Linked DNA regions of Homo sapiens: region 2 is linked to region 1. A link means that fine-mapping ties the variant in region 1 to the expression of a gene that starts in the linked region. Tissue or cell type: whole blood. Region 1 holds a variant in brackets; the other region holds the start of a gene. All regions are shown on one strand. Distances are from middle to middle.

The links. PIP is the estimated chance that this variant, and not a neighbour inherited with it, causes the effect.
Region 2: it holds the start of CANT1, and the variant in region 1 is fine-mapped to the expression of CANT1 in whole blood (TOPMed, PIP above 0.99).

Annotation. Positions count from the first base shown.
Region 1 is chr17:78,984,572-78,992,748 of GRCh38, forward strand. It overlaps CANT1 (calcium activated nucleotidase 1), which reads right to left. Exons shown (of 5, transcript NM_001159773.2): 5 at 7,145-8,177. Among named protein-coding and RNA genes, the nearest start is that of LGALS3BP, 8.7 kb to the left of the region's middle. The variant T/C (reference allele first, on the strand shown) is at 5,139.
Region 2 is chr17:79,006,413-79,014,589 of GRCh38, forward strand. CANT1 (calcium activated nucleotidase 1) reads right to left here and starts at 3,352. Exons shown (of 5, transcript NM_001159773.2): 1 at 3,252-3,352. RefSeq lists a silencer at 3,072-3,451 and an enhancer at 3,692-3,741.

The sequences.
Region 1 (8,177 bases):
CCAATGTTCATTTTACATGTGTTGATTGATGTCTTATATCTCCCTAAAATGTATAAAACCAAGCTGTGCCCTGACCACCTTGGGCACACACTGCCAGGCCCTCCTGAGGCTGTGTCAGGGGCGCCCACGTCCTCAACCTTGGCAAAATAAACTCTAAATTAACTGAGCCCGGCTGGGCGCGGTGGCTCACGCCTGTAATCCCAGCACTTTGGGAGGGTGAGGAGGGCAGATCACTTGAGGTCAGGAGTTCAAGACCCGCCTGGCCAACATGGTGAAACCCCATCAATACCGAAAATATAAAAAATGAGCTGGGTGTGGTGGTGCACACCTGTAATCCCAGCTACTCGGAAGGCTGAGGCAGGAAAATCACTTAAACCTGGGAGGTAGAGGTTGCAGTGAGCCAAGATCACACCACTGCACTACAGCCTGTCAGGAGAGAGATTCTGTCCCAAATAAATAAATAAATAAATAAAATAAAGTAAATTAACTGAGGCCTGTCTCAAATTTTCAGGGTTCACAGGGTTGTCCCAGCACCATGGTGGGAAGACAGTCTTTTGTATTTCAGGTGAATTACCCTGGCTCTTTTGTCAAAAGTCAATGGGCCACATCCATAAGGGTCTATTTCTGGACCCTATTCTGTCTCACTTGTCGGTGTCTGTTTTTCTTATGGCAATACTACACTGTTTTGATTACTTACAGCATTATATTAAGTCTTGAAGCCAGATAGTATAAGTCCTTCAACTTTGCTTTTCTTTTTCAAAATCAAGTCTGTAGACCCATGAAGACGTATACTGTTTTGTTCTTTTGAGTCTCTGATTTCTTTCATCAGTGTTTTGTAGTTTCAGGATGTAGATGTCACACATCTTTTGTTAGACTTATACGTAACTATTTCCCGATTTTTGGTGCTACTGTAATTGACAATGTTTAAAAATTTTACAATTTCTAGTTGTTCACTGCAGTTATAATAAAGTTAAATTTTGTATGTGGAATTAATATATTAATATGTTAAATATTAATGTATTAAATTTAACATATTAATATATATTAAATATTAATATATTAAATTTAGTATGTGTAGTTTCGTGGTTTTTTTGAGACAGAGTCTCGCTCTGTTACCCAGGCTGGAGTATAGTCGTACAAATACTGCTAACTGCAGCCCCAATCTCCTGGGCTCAAGTGATCCTCCCACTTCAGCCTCCCATGTAGCTGGGACCACAGGCAGGCGTGACCACATCCAGCTAATCTTTACATTTTTTTGTAGAGACAGGGTCTTGCTATGTTGCTCAGGCTGGTCTTGAACTCCTGGGCTTAAGTGATTCTCTTGCCTGAGCCTCCCAAAGTGCTGGGATTACTAAAGGCGTGAGCCACCATGCCTAGCCTCGTAGTTATTTTTTGAAGATTTCTTAGGCTTGTCTAGCTAGTCAAAGCTTGTCACTGGCGAATAAAGATAGTTCTATTCCTTCTTTTCAAATCTGAATAACTTCCTTTTTTTTTCTTTTGCACCAATAGGATGAGGAATAAAAGTGATGAGAGCAATGTCAGTTTCCTGGGTTTGGTAAATGTACTGTGCTTAGGTAATCAGTACACTGGAGGGAGCCACATGAATGCTGCACAGAAACACGACTGCTGGCCCCGCTTATCTGCAGTTTCACTTACTGCAGTTTCAGTTACCCACGGTCAACTGAGGTCTGAAAATATTAAATGGAAGATTCCAGAAATAATTCATAAGTTTTAAATTGCATACTGTTCCTAGTGGGATGAAATATTGTGTCATCCTGCTCTTTCCCTTCTTCATCACAAGGGCGAGTACAGTACACTAAGATATTTAGAGAGAGACCACATGCACATAACTCTTATTTTAGACTATTGTTCTAATTGTTCTATTTACTATGTTACTGTTAATCTCTTACTGTGCCTAATTTATGAATTAAGCTTTATCGCAGGTATGAATGTAGAACAGTAAATTCCACATTATCTATGGTTTCAGGCATCCACTGCGGGTCTTGGAATGTATCCCCCACAGAAGGGGGATATGAACCAAAAAGTATCTGAGACTGTTCTCAACCAGTTAATTTTGCCAAGGTCAAGGATAAGGCCAGGGAGGCAAAACAAAACGTGACAAAACACGGAATCGCTGAAACAGTCTGTGGTCTGTGCCTTTCTCCAAAGGTGACTTTGAGGGCTTCCATATTTAAAGGGGAAAAGCAGGCTGGAGGGGGAAGTGGGAGGGTCCGGTCCTAGTGCTGCCGCCACGGGTTGCAAGAGAAGAGAAGCAGGCAGGGGAACAGTCAATCGTGTATTCATCTGGTGCTCAGTAAATTGGCACTTCACATAAGATAAGGTGAGCACAGTAGCTACCTGCCGAGGTCTTTAGCCTTTCCTCTGTCGCTCTCTGCTTAGGAACAAGAGGAAAGGCAGCTGCTTGCATGACTCAGCTCTCAGCTTCCTGTTTTTTCCTATTGGAAGGGTGCATTGCGGTTTTTATTTTCCTTTCATAGGACCTACTGTATTTTTGCAACTTCTGTGTGGTTCAAAATTTTATTTCAAAGGAAAAAATGGTGGGGAAGAAAGTGGTGAAAGCAGACACTCTTGCGTTGTTCCTCAGGGGGAAGGCATTCAGTGTCTGACCGTGAAGTAGGAGCTTAGCTGTGGACTTCTCACCGGAGCCCTTCATCGGGTTAAGGATGTTCCCTAACGGGTTTTTTGGCTTTTTGTTTAGAATTGGATTGGGTGAATGGCTGTTAGATTCTGTCAAATGCTTTTTCTCTATCTTTTGAGATTATCATGCTTTTCCCCCTTTTTAGTCTTTTTTTTTTTTTTTTTTTTTTTTGAGATGGAGTCTCGCTCTGTCGCCCAGGCTGGAGAGCAATGGGATGATGTCGGTTCACTGCAACCTCCGCCTCTCAGGTTCAAGCGATTCTCCTGCCTCAGCCTCCCAAGTAGCTGGGACTATAGGTGCGCCCCACCACCCCCAGCTAATTTTTCGTGTTTTTAGTAGAGACGGGGTTTCACCATGTTGGCCAGGCTGGTCTCGAACTCCTGACCTCAAATGCCCACCTCAGCCTCCCAAAGTGCTGGGATTACAGGCATGAGCCACCACACCCTGCCCCTTTTTAGTCTTCATATGAATTTCATTGATTGATTTCAGAATACTGAACTAACCCTGTATTCCTAGAATAAACCACACCTATCGTGAAGTATTCTTGTCAGAGACGTTTGAACCAGAGCCACTCCATCTTGAACCAGGTCTGGGTAAATTACGGCTGAGACCTGCTGGGCTGCATTCCCAGGAGGTTAAGGCATTCTTAGTCACTGGAGACAGAAGGTTGGCACAAGATACAGGTCATACCTTGCTGATAAAACAGGCTGGCCGGGCGCAGTGGCTCACACCTGTAATCCCAGCACTTTGGGAGGCCGAGGCAGGCGAATCGCGAAGTCAGGAGTTTGAGACCAGCCTGGCCAACATGGTGAAACCCCATCTCTACTAAAAATATACAAATTAGCAGGGTGTTGTGGCGCACGACTGTAATCCCAGCTACTCGGGAGGCTGAGGCAGGAGAATCGCTTGAACCTGGGAGTCGGAGGATGCAGTGCGCTGAGATTGTGCCACTGCACTCCAGCCTGGGCAACAGAATGAGACTCCATCTCAAAAACAACAACAACAACAAAACAGGCTGCAGTAAAGCCGGCTAAAACCCACCAAAATCAAGCGGCGATGAGAGTGACCTCTGGCTGTCCTCACTGCTATGCTCCTGCAAGCACCATGATAAATGCCATGGCAACATGAGGAAGTTACCCTCTATGGTCTAAAAACGGGAGGCATGAAGAATCCACCCCTTGTTTAGCATATCCTCAAGAAATAACCATAAAAAGGGACAGTCAGCAGCCCTGGAGCTACTCTGCCTTTAGAGTTGCTATTCTTTATTCCTTTACTTTTTTTTTTGAGATGGAGTCTCACTCCATCGCACAGGCTGGAGTGCAGTGGCGCGATCTCGGCTCACTGTAACCTCCATCTCCCAGGTTCAAGCGATTCTCCTGCCTCAGCCTCCTGAGTAGCTGGGATTACAGACATGCACCGCCACGCCCAGCTGATTTTTATATTTTTAGTAGAGATGGGGTTTCACCATGTGGTCAGGCTGGTCTCCAACTCCTGATCTCGTGATTTGCCTGCCTCAGCCTCCCAAAGTGTTGGGATTACAGGCGTGAGCCACCGCACCTGGCCTACTTTCTTAATAAACTTGCTGTCACTTTACTCTATGGACGTGCCCAGAATTATTTCTTGTGTGAGCTCCAAGAACCCTCTCTTGGTGACCTGAATCAGACCCCTTTCCGGTAACATTCTAATTTTTGATTATTGCTGAATTTGGCTTGCTAATCTGTGCTAAGGATTCTTTTTTTATTTTTTATTTTTATTTATTTTTTTTTTTTGAGACGGAGTCTCGCTCTGTCACCCAGGCTGGAGTGCAGTGGCGCGATCTCGACTCACTGTAAGCTCTGCCTCCTGGGTTCATGCCATTCTCCTGCCTCAGCCTCCCGAGTAGCTGGGACTACAGGTGCCCGCCACTGTGCCCGGCTAACTTTTTTGTATTTTTTAGTAGAGATGGGGTTTCACTGTGTTAGCCAGGATGCTCTCAATCTCCTGACCTCGTGATCTACCCGCCTCGGCCTCCCAAAGTGCTGGGATTACAGGCGTGAGCCACTGCTCCTGGCCAGGATTTTTACATCTATGTTCATGAGGGATACTGGTCTGTATTTTTTTTTTTTGTAATGTATTTTTCTGGTTTTGGTATCAGTATAGTGGTGCCCTCATAAAATGAGTTGGAAAAGTTTCCCAACTCCCAGAATCATGGAAGATTTTGTGTTGCTTTCGTATTATTTCTCCCTTACATGTTTGGTACAATTCAAAAGTGAAGCCATCTGGGCCAGGGGTTTTCACAGTGTGACGGTATTTTATTTTTGCTTTAACTCTTTTAACAGCATGAAGGGATAACTTACCTTGAGATTTATCAATTTAAAGTGTACCGTGGGCCGGGCGCGGTGGCTCACACCTGTAATCCCAGCACTTTGGGAGGCCGAGGCGGGCAGATCACAAGGTCAGGAGATCGAGACCAAACTGGCTAACATGGTGAAACCCCGTC[T/C]CTACTAAAAATACAAAAAATTTGCCGGGCACGGTGGCGGGAGCCTGTAGTCCCAGCTACTCGTGAGGCTGAGGCAGGAGAATGGCGTGAACCCGGGAGGCGGAGCTTGCAGTGAGCCGAGATAGTGCCACTGCAGTCTGGCCTGGGCGAAAGAGCGAGACTCCGTCTTAAAATAAAATAAAATAAAATAAATAAAATAAAATAAATAAAATAAAATAAAATAAATAAAATAAAATAAAATAATAAAATAAAATAAAATAGTGTACCATGGCTGGGTGCAGTGGCTCACGCCTGTAATCCCAACGCTTTGGGAGGTCAAGGCGGATGGATCACTTGAGATCAGGAGTTTGAGACCAGCCTGGCCAATATGGAGAAACCCCATCTCTACTAAAAACACAAAAATTAGCCGGGCGTGGTGGCGCACGCCTGTAATCCCAGCTACTTGGGAGGCTGAGGCAGAAGAATTGCTTGAACCTGGGAGATGGAGGTTACAGTGAGCCAAGATCGTGTCCCTGCACTTCAGCCTGGGAGACAGAGCAAGACTCCATCCCCCCAAAATAAAAAAAAGAAAAGAAAAAAAGTATACTGGAATACAGGATTAACACGTGGAATGAAAGAAACTGAATCTCGTTTTTTTGTCCAGTTGAGGTGACTGGAGAGTCTTCCATTTGCAGATGAGCTGTGTGCCGGACCCATGAGTGTGGAGCCGGCAGTCACTGCCCCACGAGTCCCGCATGTCACAGCTTCTTAAACAGATGGTCAAGAGCTTACATGCGGTTCCTTATCCCAACCCGCCGCGGCCCGATGCGCCCTGGCTTTTTCTGGAACTGTTGTTCTGTGGATCCTCGCCGAGAACGCCCAGTTCTCCTTGCTGCTCAGTCATGGAGTCTCTCTGGGGACCCCGCTGCCGCGCTGGTCCTTCTGCAGAGGCCGCCTCCCTGCAGCGCTGTCTTGGTCAGGCTCCCAGCAGGAAAAGACGACACCCGAATGAAGATCATCTAAGGAGGCTTCAGTGAAGGGACCATTTACCACGGATGAGACAGCAGGGCGTGCGGGCGGCACGAGGGGCCGCTGTAGCATCTGGAGCTGCTAACAGTGGAGCTGTCACTCCCATGTCACACTCCCAGGCCAGAAGAGACCAGGGGAGGGGACTCAGCCCAGACACTGGGAGTGGCACCAGGGGGCTGCCTTGAGAGGCGAGTGCCAGAGAGAGTCAGGGACTCCCCAGGGGCCATCCCAGAGGGCACTGAGGAGGTTCACTGGGTCTGGGACCCGGAGGAGGCGGGGAAGGAGAGTGGGTCTGAAGGGTAAGGGGTCGATGTGGGTGCAATTGCCCTTTCTGATTCCGCTCTCCCGGTTTTCTGTCCCTCTCTGGCCGCCCCTGTCCTGTCTCTAGTTGAGGTCTTTCTTGGCCAGTGCCTGCCTCCCTGGCGCCTGTGGTTTCAGTGATGGGGATTCTTCCATGCGTCACTTGGAGCGACCTCGTCTGTTCCTGTGGACTCACTGACACACTAAAGACACCAGCTCAGCCCTGACCTCTCACCTGAGCGCCTCCTTACCAAGTCATCCAGATGGCTCCCCAGGGATGAGCAGCAACAAAACGGGCACGTGGGTGCCCAGCACACGTCAGGTGATGTTCTAAGCCCCTTGCGCGTACCCAGTCACTTACCGTTCACTGCAGCCCCGGGATGAGCTCTGCGATGAGCATCCTTTTGCAGACGAGGACACTGAAGCACAGGAAAGTTAGGTCATTTGCCTAAGGACATGCAGCTGGATGGGGACAGAGCCAGGATCGGGCTTGCAGTGGCTTCAGACCCCACCTTTCTGACCACAGCGCTCGTGCTCTTGGAGCGCCTTGAGATAGTGGGACAAGGCGGACTGGAGGACGCAGTTTCCAGATGGGATGCCCTGGCGGGCGACTCCCGTGCGCATGCCCAGCATCCTGCGCAGGCGCTCTCGTGGCCAGGCCTCTGCAAACAGTCAGCACAGACCGGGAGACAGAAAACTACACTCCCTCAGACGCTTTATTGTTTACAAAACAGATGGATCCCATAGGGAAGGAACACAATCATTATGCTGACAGCAGCGAACAGAGAGGGGAAGAAAAAAGGTGAGCTTTAAAGTAATCGCAAATCACTGCCTATGCGAAGAGGCTGCTTCCGGGCACCTGGGCTGTGACTCAGGTGCTGACATGAATACATCAGCAAGGTCTCAATTCAGCCACAGTCCCAAGTCCCCCAACCTTCCTGATTGCATCTCTATTTTAAATGACCCAGCCTGGACATCAAGGACAATGATCTAGGAGGCGGGTCAAGGAGACAGCCAGGCAAAGTCAGAACAGACTTGGGGCTTCCAGGCTATGCCCGGTGACAGCTGAGCTCTTCAGAAATGCGTCACATTCAGCGTTCACTTCCTTCGCTTCCTCCACTACCTATGACATAGCGGGGGAAAGAGACAACCATGAGAGAGGGGTCCCTCCTCGCTGCCCTCCTCGCAGCTGTGCTTGAGTTTCAAAGGGGGAGAGGTTTGTGAGGGACCGGCACAGGGACAGCCAGAGCCGGCACCCTCCGGCCCACCGTGGCACCCCTGACGATCGCGGGGTGGGGTAGGAGTGAGGGTGGGGGTCGGGGTGAGGTAGTGCTGTGGGGAGGGCACTGTGAATGATGGAAACGTCCCTTCTCAGCCTGGGTCGTGCCTAACCTGGGTCTCAAATCCCACTCTGCCTTCACCCTGGAGTACACTCCAGCGAAGCCGAGGCCCAGCCAACGCTCGTGAAGTTTCCACAGAGAAGAGCCTGCAAAACTCCCACTGGAAGAGGAGAAATAAAGGCCATGGAAAGAAACCCCAGGGAAGAGACAGGCCTCGTTCACAGACCCTAGGCAGGGAATAAAAAATTCAAGTCATTCACAGAAGTCTTGAAAGGCATGAGGATTTCTGACAGTTCCTAGAAAAAGGCAACATTTTCTTTATCTTTGTATCCATTGGCCAAGAACGCCGACATGTGAGACTTGCTTCACCAGCCGCCACCGCTTCCTTACA
Region 2 (8,177 bases), 22 kb after region 1:
CCTTAATTCCCCTTTGCCATGTAATGTAACATATTCACAGGCTCAGAAGGTAGGACGTGGACATCTCGGGGAGCTGTTCCTCCACCAATCACAGGAGGAAGAGGGGAAAGAGCCTCCAGGTTTTTCCAAGGGCCAGGACCAGTCACTGTCTATGGTGTGGGCGCACAGCTTCAGAACCCTCTACGGTTTGCAGTTACTGCCTTGTAAAGAGGCTGTGTCTGCTTAATTTGTATCATCGATGTTACACCTGGAGGAATTTTAGCCAAAAGGCGACCTTCTCAGTTGAAAGGCACATTCCAAATGGCACCACACATCTGGGAAGGTGTCCTTTTCCAGAGTGTGTGAAAATAACGGGATGGGATCATCGCCCCATGGACCTGGATCAGGGCTGCCTTCCACACCGCGGTGGCACCTGCACGAGCCCACCTGCTTACTGCCACCTTCTCTCCTCACGCTTTCCTCCAGGCTCGGCTCCCGGGACACAAAGGCCGAATCGCCAGGACTTTCACTCAACCCGGCAACACCCTCAGAGCCATTCTGGGGGGTCCCAGTCTCACCTCTGCCCCACTCCCACATGGTGGCATCACGCACTGTCTTAAGTCTTAAGCCAGACTTCAACGCCTTCTTCACTTCCCATAAAACCATCCCAGAGGAACGCGGGGAGCAGCGTCCTGCCTGGGAACCAGGCGCTCCACATGACCACTGCACGCATGACAAAGACGAGCAGGGTCCAAAACAAAAAACAGAACGTCTCCCCAAACAGACTTCTCTACTGCCAGGATGATTTTTTCCTAATTAACCATCTTGATTAAAGTAAAAGGAAAATCAACATGAACATTCTTAAGAATTAATATAAAAGTTTCTAATTCCCTTGATATTGGCATTTCATAAGAGCTTTCCAGGAAATCTCGATAGTTCAGAGTGCACTGAGTGAAAAGAATGAATGCTGTGTGTCCTTGGCATCCCTGGTACCATTCAACAAACAATAGAAAAATGACCTCCTTGTGATAGTACTGACCCATTTCAGGACCTGGACAATAGTTCCAAGTCTCAGATCTTCTGTTTTTGAAAGAGAAAACACTACAGCATTTATACATCTACCTATCTACCTATACGGTTGCCAGAAAGTACCGAGACTCCGAGGACGGGCCATATGTACTTGGGGGAGCCTGCACAGGCACACACACCTCGAAAGCCACATCCAGGTGGCAGGGTAAAAACACCCACAGGGCCAGGAGAACTGCTGCTACCACACCCTGGGTCTCCTCACGTACTCTGCAGCTCAGGGGGGTCCTGCAGACCAGGTGCACAGTGACGGGTGAGTGAAAACGTTCTGGAGTACCAAGAGCTTTTACACCAACACATTTACTAAGCTGCCATGGGCTAGGAAAATATGGTTATAGCCTAAGGGGAAGAAAGGAGACCTCTGGCAATCAGAAGCGTCAAGCCTCAGATGTGCCCCTCCAGCGAGGTGTCCCAGGGTCCAGGGGTCCTATCCCGCTGCGAGTGGAGGGTTCCCTCTACCACCTTGTGACATGTCATTCTCTTTTGTGATCACGTTAATTTGGACATGAAAAAGTGACACTAGAAGTTGGTCCCCACACTGCTGCGGTGGCCTCATGACAGTGCCTGGACAAATCCATGCTTCACCTGAGTCCTGGCCGTGAAGATGCCTGGGGCTGCCCCGACAGGAAACCCTTGCCACGTCCAGAGGGGAGAGGGTTGGCTCCTTCAGTGTGCCTTTCAGCAGGGGCGTGTGCTAGGATAGAGGGCTCATTGAGGCCAGCAGGGAGGAGCACCTGGGAGGAGCCCCACTGCCGTTCCACAGGCTCCAGCCAGACTGTCCTGCTGAGAGGCCTGCGGTGGGGCTGCAGGGAGGGTCTGTGGTCCAGGCCTGGAGGGACCTTTCTCAGCAAAGCTCCTCAGAGGGAGAGGGAGGAAGAGCTGGGAGATAGCGGATCCTGAAGGGCTGCGGCACCCGCTTCCTTTTAGGAGCCTTCTACGACCTGACACTTGTTTCAAGTTTGGGCCCTTACACTGGAGAGCTAGCCGGATTCACTTGACACCAAGAGCCTCACATTTCCAAACCTCTGCTTTGTTGAAAATGTGGTAGGAAAGGCCATAGGGCATACAACCTCAAGAATAAAATAAGAAATGGAGCTGGGACACTAAGAGACGGCTTTTCCAGGGGTCACTAAGGGGGAAAGGTGTTTGGGAGAGAGATGTGTCTGCTGATGGAAGAGTGGTCACAGGTGCTCTGTGCCAAGCCTAGGGTACACAGAGGGCAAGGGAAAGACCATTCGGAGGGAGAAGCAAAGGCACCAGGCAACATGGACTGGCAAGGAGGTACCAGTCTCCAAGGATGAGAGAATCCAGACCGGATGGCAGTAGGGGTGTGAGACAGGTATGGTGGGGAGGGCGAATCATTTGCATGCAGGAAGATGAGAGTGAGCTGTGTGCCTGGAGGAAGGCTCCAAATTGGATGAGGGCAGGGAGAGCAAGGACTGGGATGGGGTGGGGAAGGTTGGCCTGTTACAGGTTTGACCAAGTGCCAGTCAGAGGGAGAAAATTCCCTTATCAGTCCAAGGAGACCCTGCATAGACCAGAGGAGGGGTATTTGAAGTCAGAAGGTGGTGGGAGGGGGTCATTCCCAGGAGGGGTGCCCCACACTAGCCAGAGCGGGGAGGCGTCCCACACTAATCAGAGGGGGATGGTCCCCACACTAACCAGAGGGGGAGGTGCCCCACATGAATCAGAGGGGGGTGGTCCCCACACTAATCAGAGCGGGGAGGTGCCCCACAGTAATCAGAGGGGGATGGTCCCCAAACTAATTAGAAGGGGGGTGTCCCACACTAATCAGAGCGGGGAGGAGTCACATAATCAGAGGGGGGAGGTGCCCACACTAATCAGAGGGGAATGGTCCCCACACTAATTAGAGAGGAGGGGTGCCCACACTAACCAGAGGGTAATGGTCCCCACGCTAGTCCCAGGGATGAGGTGTCCCAAAAGTCAGAGGGGGTGGTGTCCACCGCCTGTCGGAAGAAGGGGACTTTCCCACAGGTCAGAGGGCAGAGTCCCAGCCCAGTCTGCGAGTCAGGGGGCAGAGATCCCGCACGGGTGGGACGGGAAGGGGGCCTGACGGGTCAGGGGGCGGGACGCGGCAGGGTCGGAGGGCGGCGGCAGGCTCCGGGACGGGGGTCCGGGCCCGTGGCTGGGGCAGGGCGCCGGCGGCCGCGGGCGCAGTCACTCACCCGCTGCGGGGCTGGCTCCGGTGCCCGCGATCGGCGGGGCTTGGCTGGGCTTGGCTGGGCTTGGCTGGGCTAACGGCCGGGACGGAGGAAGGTGGCCGACTTCCGCCCCGCGCGCGCTCGCCCCGCCTCTGGGCCCGCGTTCCCGGCAGCCTCTGCTCTGCGGCTGCGCGCGGACGGCGCGAGGGCTGCTGGGAGCTGTGGTTTGTGTTTTTTTGGGTTTTTTTTTTGTTGTTTTTTTGTGTTTTTTTTTTCCGTCCTGCGCCTGCGCGCTGGAGGAGCGGCCGGCTGGCTGCAGGCTGGAGGGGCGCGAGGGTCCGCACTGGCACATGAGGGCCGTCTTCCACCGCGTTGCGCTGGAACGTGGGCCCAGCAGATCTTTTGGGGTGGGAGGCATTGAGGGGGGTGAAGGCTACTAGGGAGGGAAGTTCTCATTCTCCGAGCGAGGGCCCCCTTACATGGGCCTCCCGACCCTCGTAGTCTTGGGAGGCGGAAAACCGTGGGCCCCTTTCTGCCATCCTCATTCTCAGGCAGCCCCTCTCCTTGGCCCTTCAAAACAGCCGCCTCCAGAGTGCTGCTGACCAGTTGCCAAAGCCAGGATCAGGGAGGTCTAAGGCTGTAGTGTCCTGGGGTGGGGACGGTGGGGTGTTTCCCTGCAAAAAATCTGCAGTTGACAAACCTGCCAAACAAGGGTCTCTGATTTCTCCTTTCCCCTCCGTAGCCCTAGCCCCCGAGATATTTTAGGGCACTCTGTTAAAAGGCTTCCCCGGCCCCGCCCTCCTCCATCCCAAAGTTCTGAGAAAGGCCTGGTGGCCGTGGAGCCTCTGGCAGGAGAGCTTGGCAGAAGGGTGCACCAGCCCCCTGCCCATCTGCACCTTCAGCTTTCCTGCTTGATACCAGCTACTTCCCCCAGCTCTCTCAAAACCTTCCGTTCAGTAAAAGATACACAAGAGGAGGAATTCAAATTATATAAATGGTACGCAATGAAAAATAAGCCTCCCATTGCCGTTCTGTATTCCCTGCCCAGAGGCGATCACTAGATGTTATATGGTATCCAAACAAGTCATAAACACGTATCTTAAATTACCTTTAACTAAATAGAAATGTGCTAAACACTGTTATGCACTTTTGGTTTTTGATTTTGGAGAGGAGACAAACCTTTCTTGAATTCATTAATGTTTCTTGTCATGCTAAACTGAGTCCCAACCATGTCTCACATAATACTCATTATTGTCAGGCCTCTGAGCCCAAGCTAAGCCATCATATCCCCTGTGACCTGCACATATACATCCAGATGGCCTGAAGCAACTGAAGAACCACAAAAGATGACATTCCACCATTGTGATCTGTTCCTGCCCCACCCTCACTGATCAATTGACCTTATGACAATACACCCTCCCCACCCTTAGGATAATGTACTTCGTGATATTCCCTCACCCTTAAGAAGGTACTTTGTAATATTTTTCCCACCCTTGAGAATGTACTTTGTGAGATCCACCCCCTGCCCACAAAAAATTGCTCCTAACTCCACCACCTATCCCAAACCTATAAGAACTAATGATAATCCCACTACTCTTTGCTGACTCCTTTCTCGGACTCCGCCCACTTGCACCCAGGTGAAATAAACAGTCTTGTTGCTCACACAAGGCCCGTTGGTGGAATCTCTTCACATGGACGCATGTGACAATTATATTTGAATCTTTTATTTTCTAAAAGATCCACATGTGCCTTCCAGCTTAAGAAATAACACATTATTCCTGCATCTTTAAAACTCTCCAGGTTCTTCCTGTTCTGTACTCCCTGCTACCCCCAAGAGGTGGTAGCCACAATACTGAATGTTGTGTTAATCATTCTGTTGCCTTACTTTATAATTTTAGCACATAGGTATGTATCCCTAAACAATATATTGTTTAATTCTGTCTATTTTAACCTTTATAAAATGAAATAAAACTGTATGCAATAATTGAGAGATCCAGTGGCTCTCTCAGAGGCCTTCGAACCAGAGCAACACCATCTTGAATAAGGGCTGGGTAAATGAGACCTGCTGGGCTGCATTCCCAGGAAATTAGGCATTCTTAGTCACAGGATGAGATAGGAGGTTACAAGATACGGGTCACAGAGACCCTGCTGATGAAACAGGATGCAGTAAAGAAGCTGGTCAAAACCCTCCAAATCCAGGATGGCAATGAAAGTGACCTCTGGCTGTCCTTGCTGCTAATTATACCCTAATTATAATGTATTAGCATGCTGAAAGACACTCCCACCAGCACCATGATGATTTACAAATGCCATGGCAACGTCAGGAAGTTACCCTAGATGTTCTAACGGGGAAGAACCCTCAGTTCCAAGGAAATCTCCTCCCCTTTCCCAGAAAACTCATGAATAATCCACCCCTTGTTTATCATATGAGCGAGAAATAACCATAAAAATAGCCAACCAGCAGCCCTTGTGGCTGCTGTGCCCATGGAGTAGCCATTCTTTTATTGCTTTACTTTCTTCATAAACTTGCTTTCACTTTACTCTGCGGACTTGCCCCAGATTCTTTCTTGTGGAAAATCCAAGAACCCTCTCTTGGGGCCTGGACTGGAACCCCTTTCTGATAACATCTTGCTGAGAAACCATGAAGGGACAACACTGGAGAGACCTCTGACCCAAGGGAAATAGACTTCAGCACCAGTTGACCAACTTTGGGTACATGGTGGGGTATTTTATCCAGGGTAATGGATGGAATTGGGTTAGAGGCCCAAATTAGGAGAGTTAGAGTCCCTCCTAAGACACAGGGAGTTAGAGGCCCCTCTTTGTAAAGAACAAGAATGCTTGTTCAAACTTGGGTTGAAGGCTCAACTTCAGAATGTTAGAGGCCACCCTTAGTAAGAGCCCTCTTGGTTAAAAATGGATTCAGCACTGCAGGATGTTAACCGCCATTCTATTTGGATTAATTTGCCATGCCCTCTTTGCTGATGGCTGTGGGTGACAAGATTAGGCATGTGCAGGATCATGGGACCTGGGGAGCTTTTTTTCCTCCCCCAAAGGGGAAAACTTGAGAGCTGATGGGACTGCTGGAAAAGATCCCTTTTTGACAAGCAGCTGTCTGAACTTTTGATTCAGTGTCACTGTGATGGATGGGTCTTTCTCTGGCTTCTGTGAGCTCCTCACCTCTGCAACCCACCACAGGCAACACTCTTCTCCCTTCCCTTTCCTCTCTCTCGTTCTCGCCTTTCCCTTGTCTGTCTTCTCTGTCACTCTGGGTGATGATCTACTCTTCCATCTTGCCCAAAAACCACCTGTTGAAACTCCTGGTTGGCAGTCATTCCGCCCCCACTTTGAATGGATTAAACACTACAGGGGCCAATGGGGGAAGTTTTGAGCCTTGCCAGGTCGATATTGGGTGCTGAGGGGGGTGGCTAGTGTCTGTGTTTTGTCAAGTGCACTTTGTTCTGGCCAGAATGGAAAATGTTGATTCGATTCCTCCATGCAACTTGTTGTGTAGCATCTTGCAAAATTGAGAGGCTTTTCCTATGGTTCCATGAAATGGAAAAGGGTGATTTTTGCTTTGCGATGTGGCTTGGCCCCCACAGTTATGGTGCTGTGAGCAGGGTCACGAGGGCTGCTTAGGGAAAGGGATCCCAGAAACCTGGCATGCTGGCAAAAGGGTAAGAATTTCTTACCAGTCAGGCCTTTGGTCTCTCTCTCTCTATGCAAACCAGTTGAGTGAATGGTAAAAATCACTGTCTCCTCTGCAAGGTTTTGATGAATGGGAAAAAGGATTTGTGAGGCTAGTCTTAGGCTGTGATGAATCTGGTGTACTTTGTGCTATGAATTTGGCTTTCTGTGTCATTCTGTCATAAAAGGGGTATCATAGGATAGAATGTGGCCCTAGGACCCCTGTAAGCCCACTATTCAAGCTGGCCCAGCAAACTGGTCAGTTGACAACTTTGCTTCAGGTCACTGAAACAAAAACTGGATGAGGATTCCCCCTCGTCTTGTTTTATGTCCTTGGGAGCTTGACTTGTGACCATGGAGGGGTATTTTCTCTTGGTCTGTACCATCCCTGTGAGTCATGTTTTACAACCAAAATATATAAAAGAGCTCTATTTAATTGGCTTAAATAAAAATAAGCACTTAAATAAAATATTTTGCCAGAAAAATTAAAATGCTAATGCCTTTTTGTTCACATGACTTTAGTCATCTTTGGAAAAGCAAGGCAGTTTTAAAGATTATTGGTAAAATAAAAATGTCTTTGAAATTTAGACATTTGGTCTAAATTAGGCAGGTCAGATACTAGGTTTACTAAACTACTTCTCTGACTTTTGATAATTGTTCAATTTACCTTCTTTGGAGCCATTAGCGTCTATGTAAGGCCTGGGAACATATGGAGTTAGCCATGCCCCTAGCTATGCTGGAAGGGGTCAGACCTTATCTGCACTTTTGTCTGGTGCCCCAAGCTCTACACCTGGTACACAAATAAAATCACTTACCAAATTTTTCGCCAAAAATAAAAGTTGCTAAGAGTTAACATTGTACCATATGTAACTGAGGTTACTGGAGGAACACTTTTACATGCACAGTGTGTAAGGAAAGTATAATGTGTGTTTGGTAAAAGATTATAAGAAGGCATGGGAAGGCAGGGTGTTTTTGCCTGGTTTGGAAGTTTAAAGAGTTGTTCTTAGATAGGAGAAAGCGGAAGGTCTAAGCAAGTCGTGGAAGGTTTGTGAAAGTCTAATCTTGTAAAAGCAATTCTCTGTGTTAACATATTGGCTAAAGTTAAAGGAGTATTATTTGGTTTTTCCATAAATTGAACATTGGAATAAAAGCACAACAGGGTTTTCTTAGAGCATTGGTCTACTCTTTAACAAAAAAAATTGTAAAGGGTTATAAAAGCTTTATGAAAATCTTACATTATGGTCAAACTGATTGAAGTTAGGAAAA